Regions from separate parts of the Homo sapiens genome. Here region 1 is linked to region 2. The links come from fine-mapping of genetic effects on gene expression. A gene starts in region 2. The other region holds a variant in brackets. All regions are shown on one strand. Distances are from middle to middle. Region 1 overlaps DLG4 (discs large MAGUK scaffold protein 4). Region 2 holds the start of ASGR2 (asialoglycoprotein receptor 2).

What was found. PIP is the estimated chance that this variant, and not a neighbour inherited with it, causes the effect. A credible set is the group of variants that fine-mapping cannot tell apart.
Region 1: its variant is the best candidate, but not a certain one, in a credible set for the expression of ASGR2 in monocytes (BLUEPRINT, PIP 0.89).

The regions. Positions count from the first base shown.
Region 1 is chr17:7,211,405-7,214,305 of GRCh38, reverse strand. All of the region lies in intron 1 of DLG4 (discs large MAGUK scaffold protein 4), which reads left to right. Among named protein-coding and RNA genes, the nearest start is that of DLG4, 4.8 kb to the left of the region's middle. RefSeq lists enhancers at 2,248-2,762, 2,763-2,901. The variant GAAA/A (reference allele first, on the strand shown) is at 1,211.
Region 2 is chr17:7,113,597-7,116,497 of GRCh38, reverse strand. It overlaps ASGR2 (asialoglycoprotein receptor 2), which reads left to right and starts at 1,676. Exons shown (of 9, transcript NM_001201352.2): 1 at 1,676-1,883; 2 at 2,188-2,381. The coding sequence starts at 2,258. RefSeq lists an enhancer at 738-1,524.

The DNA.
Region 1 (2,901 bases), 98 kb before region 2:
GGATGGGCGTGGCGTGGCCCCCCGTGCGTAAAGGAGACAGGGTTTGAGGAGCTATTGTCCAAGTAACTTCAGGGCGCGGGGGTCTTTGGAAAGGAGAATCCGGGGGTTGGGAAGTCTGACGTCTCAATTTTCCTAAGATGGAGGTCTGTTCAGATTTCATCAGAGCACCCCTCCTACCTCAGCTCTGTGTTCCCAGGAGACGGTTGCTAGGCGACGGCAAAGTCCTTGATTGCTGCGTTGCCAGGCAACAGAGAAACGGAAAATGGAGGGAAAAGGGAAATGGGGGATGGGGAAGGGTCTTTATGGGCCATGGCGCCCACTGGTGGATAAGCAGGGCCTGCAGGTTTTCTATTCTAGAAGGAAATTTGAGTCCAGCCCCTTCCGCACTGACTCCTTGGATCCTCTGGTGATCCAAGCCTTCCTACCAGATATGAAACTAGGACATTGGGGGTCATCTTGGGGGCGCATGTAACAGATGCCGATCAACGGGGTCAATCTCGCTTGGGTGAGATTCTAGGGAAGTCGTCATTTCTACCATGTATGGGCATTTTATAGAAGTCAGCCGATTTGAGGAGACCCCTCACTGGGTTTTAAGAGCTGGAAGGGTGGGCGTTCAATGGGAGAATATTTGGAAGAGAGGCTTTCAGGTTAAGTTGTTTGGGAGAAAATGGAAATCTCTGAAGAGACCTGAAGGAGGCGGTTGGGAGTGTTCTGGACGATTTGTGGGTCATTGCAGATTGCCGGCCGTATCTTTGGTGTGTATTTTTTGAGGCCTGAGTGTGGAGAAGATATATTTGGGAGCAATCTTCCGACAAAGTTGGAATTCAGAATCGTGGAGGGGATGTTCTGGGCAGACAGAAAAGGGTGTAATCTATGAACCTCAGGGGTAAAGAAAAGGAGAGGAGGTGCCGGGTGCGGTGGCTCACACCTGTAATCCCAGCACTTTGGGAGCCCGAGGCGCGCGGATCATGTGAGGTCACGAGTTCGAGACCAGCCTGGCCAACATGGCGATACCCCGTCTCTACTAAAAATACAAAAAAATTAGCCGGGCGTAGTGGCGGGCGCCTGTAATGCCAGATATCCGGGAGGTTGAGGTAGGAGAATCACTCGAACCCGGGAGCCGGATGTTGCAGTAAGCCGAGATCGCGCCATTGCACTCCAGCATGAGCAACAGAGCGAGAATCTGTCTCAAAAAAAAAAAAAAAAAAAA[GAAA/A]GAAAGAAAGAAAAGAAAAGGAAAAGGAAAATACTTTTAATTAATTAATTATTAATTTTTGAGACCGAGTCTCACTCTGTCGCCTAGGCTAGAGTGCAGTGGCACGATCTCGGCTCACTGCAATCTCTGCTGCCCAGATTCAAGCCATCCTCCTGCCTCAGCCTCCCTAGTAGCTAGGATTACAGGCGCCTGCCACCGCGCCCGGCTAATTTTTGTAGTTTTAGTAGAGATGGGGTTTCACCATCTTGGCCAGGCTGGTCTGGAACGCCTGACCTCATGATCCAACCGCCTCGGCCTCCCAAAGTGCTGGGATTACAGGTGTGAGCCACCGTGCCAGGCCAAAATTTTTTTTTTTAGAGATGGGATCTCACTATGTTGCCCAAGCTGGTGTTGGGCACCTGGCCTCCAGCGATCTTCCCGTCTACATTTCTTTTTATAAGAGTTTTGGAAAAAATTGACGAGATTGCTATTTAATTTGGAGGGTCTGCTTTAAAGTAGATTAAATATTTCCTGAAATTGGGTTCTGGTGTGGATTTGGAGACTGGCATATTAGGAAGTCATGAGTATCTTATTAGATTCGGGGGTTTGGACAGGGGATCCCCAACAAATTAGAGGACTTGTTATTTGGATGTTTATATTAGAGCAAGAGTAATATTTGCACTAATTGCAACATCCCTGTTAGTGGATTGGGAGATAGATGTGATATAGAAAGGGATGATTTAGCATATATTAATTTGGGGGGCCAACAAGGCTCTGTGGTTCCTTAAACTCTTGAAGAAACATGGGCTGCCTATCAGGTGGGGCTGGACTGCAGGGGAGAACTATGCTGGTTAGAGTAGGAGATGCCTTGGAATCTGAGGAGATGCTATCCACAGCACCAATCTTGCGGGGGTTTGGTGGGAGAGGCAGTGTAGATCCCTTGGGGGTTCTTGTGAGAGAAGTGCTGTTTGTTTCCCTGGACTCTGGGAGGCCAGTAGTGACGAGATGTCCAGTGAGGTTTTGGAATGGTTTGGGGTCTCGCGATGTTGGGGTTGGGGGATTAGATGGGATGGAATAAGGGGTCCCTGAGAACTAGAGAGATAAACTGGTAAATTTAAGTCTGTCTTTAATTGTAGAGGGGTCGGAATAGAAGTATACTGTGGAAAGTGAAGTTCACAGAGAAACAGCGTGAACCAGGGAAGTTGGTGGCTAAGAGGGTCTCCCCTCACCCCTCTCTCCCAACGTGACGCTCTTCCTTACTGCGCAGGCGCCGTCACCCCCCCCCCCCCCCCGCCGCAGCCTCCAGTTGCCGCGGCCGCCGCAGCCCCCGCCCCTCTGCCCCTCCCCCTCCCCCAACCCCCGGGACCCTTGATATCCCACCTACCCCCTTCCCTCAGTCCCCCTCCCCTTCTCCATGTCGGCTCGGAACAGATTCGCCTCCATGTGTCTCTGCGTGGTACGTGCCGCGGTATGGGCTCCGGCCCGCTCCCCCTTCCCGGACCCCCGCAAATATCAGGGTGCAAGCTTCAAGCGCTGTCGCTCTTCCTTCTGCTTGGTGCGGGGTCTCTGGGTTGCAACTTCTCGTGGACAGGCGCCGTGGGTCGCCCCTCTTATCATTCACTTTGACTCACACCCCTATGTTTTGGGGGTGCAAGCCTCAGTTCCAGGTCATTCTGTGCAACTGGGGCTCTGGTGAGGAGGGGGCCAAA
Region 2 (2,901 bases):
TGTTCAGACTTTGAGTTGTGACCCATTAATGGACTGGGAAACTCAACAGAAGGCACGTAGTAAGGTGAGCATTGTCCCATCAAACTTTAGTGTCAACCGTGTATTTCCAAACGCATTATTCTATTCACTCACTCACTCAGTAGATACTTGTTGAGCAGCTACTGTGTGGCAGGCACTGGGGATCCAGGAGAAAGTAACACATACAAATGCACCTGTGTGTGCGGGTGCTTGTGTGTATGTTCTGGATCACAGCATGAAATTCGTCTCTCGCTGTGGGCTGCAGTCAGAGAGCCCAGCGGCTGCTGCTGCCTGGTGGCTGGGTGGGAATGTCAGGGTACTGGGGGGGTGGCTACTTCCCATGTGGGTCAGCAAGTTACAAGAACAGAAAAGGCCTCTGTTTGAATTCCTTTTCGGCACCCGGGGAAACGAGCAGCTTTATAAGAAACCCTGCCCGTAGCCATCCGCCCAAGTTTGGTGAGGGTCAGAAAATCATGCACAAAAACTGTGTTTTCTTTCCCGAGCTATTGTTAGCGCAAGTGTAGACAGTCAGCCACGTTCCTTGCTTCATGGAAGCCAGTCTTCCTCGTAGGACCATGAAGACCTTTTCTTTTCTTTTTCTTTCTTTCTTTTTTTTTTCTTTGAGATGGAGTTTCTCTCTTGTTGCCCAGGCTGGAGTGCAATGGCGCAATCTTGGCTAATGCAACCTCCGCCTCCCAGGTTCAATCGATTCTCCTGCCTCAGCGTCCTGAGTAGCTGGGATTACAGGCCCCTGCCACCACGCCCGGCTAATTTTTGTATTTTAGTAGAGACAGAGTTTCACCATGTTGGCCAGGCTGGTCTCGAACTCCTGACCTCAGGTGATCCACCCACGTCGGCTTCCCAAAATGCTGGGATTACAGGCGTGAGCCACCGTGCCCGGCCAGACCTTTTGTTATGATGTTATTTTCCCCTCTTTACTCCATTTTGCTTTGCCAGTTTCTCTACTCACCTGGGCCACCACCTAGAGCAAGTTGCCTCATCTCTCCGAGGCTCCGCTTCCGAACCCTGTGAAATGGGAGTAACAGAAGTCCTGCCTCGTGGGGGTGTTGTGCTGTGATAAATGAAGAAACACCTTGGAGAATTTAGGGCAGTGGCTGGGCCTGAGGACAGTGTTTGTGTTGCCTGGGCTGGGGCAGGGTCTGGGCCGGACGGGGCTCTCTGAGGTTGGATTCCTCCTGCGAGGAGAGCTGTTTTTCTGCAAAGCCCCTTCCTCCTCCTGCTGAAGCTTCTGGATTTGAGAGGCTTTACTCTCCAGGAGAGTGAAGCGAGTTGGGCCAGAGCTGAGAGTCTGGTGGCCGAGCCCACAGGAAGCTGGGGTCTGTGGTTCAGATGCCGGATTGGGCAAGAGTAGAGAACTGGTCGCTGTGATCCTGGTCAGGGATATTTGGAGACACCCACAGTTCTGGTAAATTCGGAGGCAGGAAGTGAGAGGGGGAGGGAGAGAGGGAAACGGCAAACTGCACCCCAGCCCCTCCTGGCCTGGCACCCCTTCCAAATGGTGCAATGAGTGGGGTGAGTGGCGTGTGGAGTTGAGCGCAGCCCAGGGGACCCCCCTCTCTGGGAATAAGAACAGAGATAGCCCCGTCCCCTGCCCCCACCCCACAAATGAGTTACAGCTCTGTTTCCTCTTCTGTTTACTGTCCAAAGTCCCAGGCCAGGAGGTGCCAGGTTAGAGCTTGGACACTCAGACCCTCCAGTGCAGGCCTTGCCCGGACCAGCCCCTCCTCCACTCTCCTCTCCCCTGTGAGCTCCACCTGCCCCAGTTCTCCTGGCTTTAACCCCTCCTTGGCCAAGGCCAGGGTTGCCTGCGGGAGCCAGGTGTCCGCTCTCCACACCTTTCACAGGTAACTGAGGCTGGGGAGGCAACTGGGACGAGGATGCTTGGGAACAAGGAGGCCTTGGTTCAGGGATGGGGAGGACCCCATGGGAAGCTGTGGGTGGTCGGGTCCATGAGCGTGGGGAGGGGTCTCCTGGCCAGGTCAAGGCCCAAGCGGTCTCCTGAGAAGGGAAAGGACCCAGCGGGATTTCAAACCTCATCCCAAACGCCCTGCCAACCTCAGATCCTACCCAGGCCACCACCCCGAACCCCTCCGACCCTGCGTTCCATCCCACCATCAACCTCCACGTGAATCTGCACCTCTGCCCCAGCCCCAGCCCTCAGAGCAACCTCAGCCCAGCCCAGCCCAGCTCCAGCTCCAGCTCCAGCCCGGGCCCCATCATGGCCAAGGACTTTCAAGATATCCAGCAGCTGAGCTCGGAGGAAAATGACCATCCTTTCCATCAAGGTGAGGGGCCAGGCACTCGCAGGCTGAATCCCAGGAGAGGAAATCCATTTTTGAAAGGCAAGTGTGCAGTTTCTGCGGCTTTGCTCCCCCTCTGTCTCAGCTCATGATTGCTCTGTCCCTTTGAGGTCTCTGCCGCACCCACTCTGTGAACAGGGACTGAGGAGGGCCCGACACCCCCGCTTGTTCCCTCACCTCACCTTCCTGTCTACCCCAGGACCCCAGGAAAGGCATGTGCCAGAGGTGTGGGGAGATCTGGAAGATAACTGCCTGCCCTTCTCCTCCCAACCCAAGAACACATGTGCCTCGTATGTGCGTGTGCACGTATGTGCATATGAGGAATGCAGATTCAGCTGGGACTCTGTGTGTGTGTGTGAGTGAATGTTGTGTGTGTGTATATGTGCGCGAGAGCGTGCATATGTTGTGTGTGTGTATGTCGTGTATGTGAGAGGGTATGTTGTGTGTGAGAGTGTGTTGTGTGTGTATGTTGTGTGAGTATATGTTGTGTGTATCTTGTGTGTGAGTGTATGTTGTGTGTTGTGTGTGTATCTTGTGCATGTGTGTATGTTGTGCGAGTGTA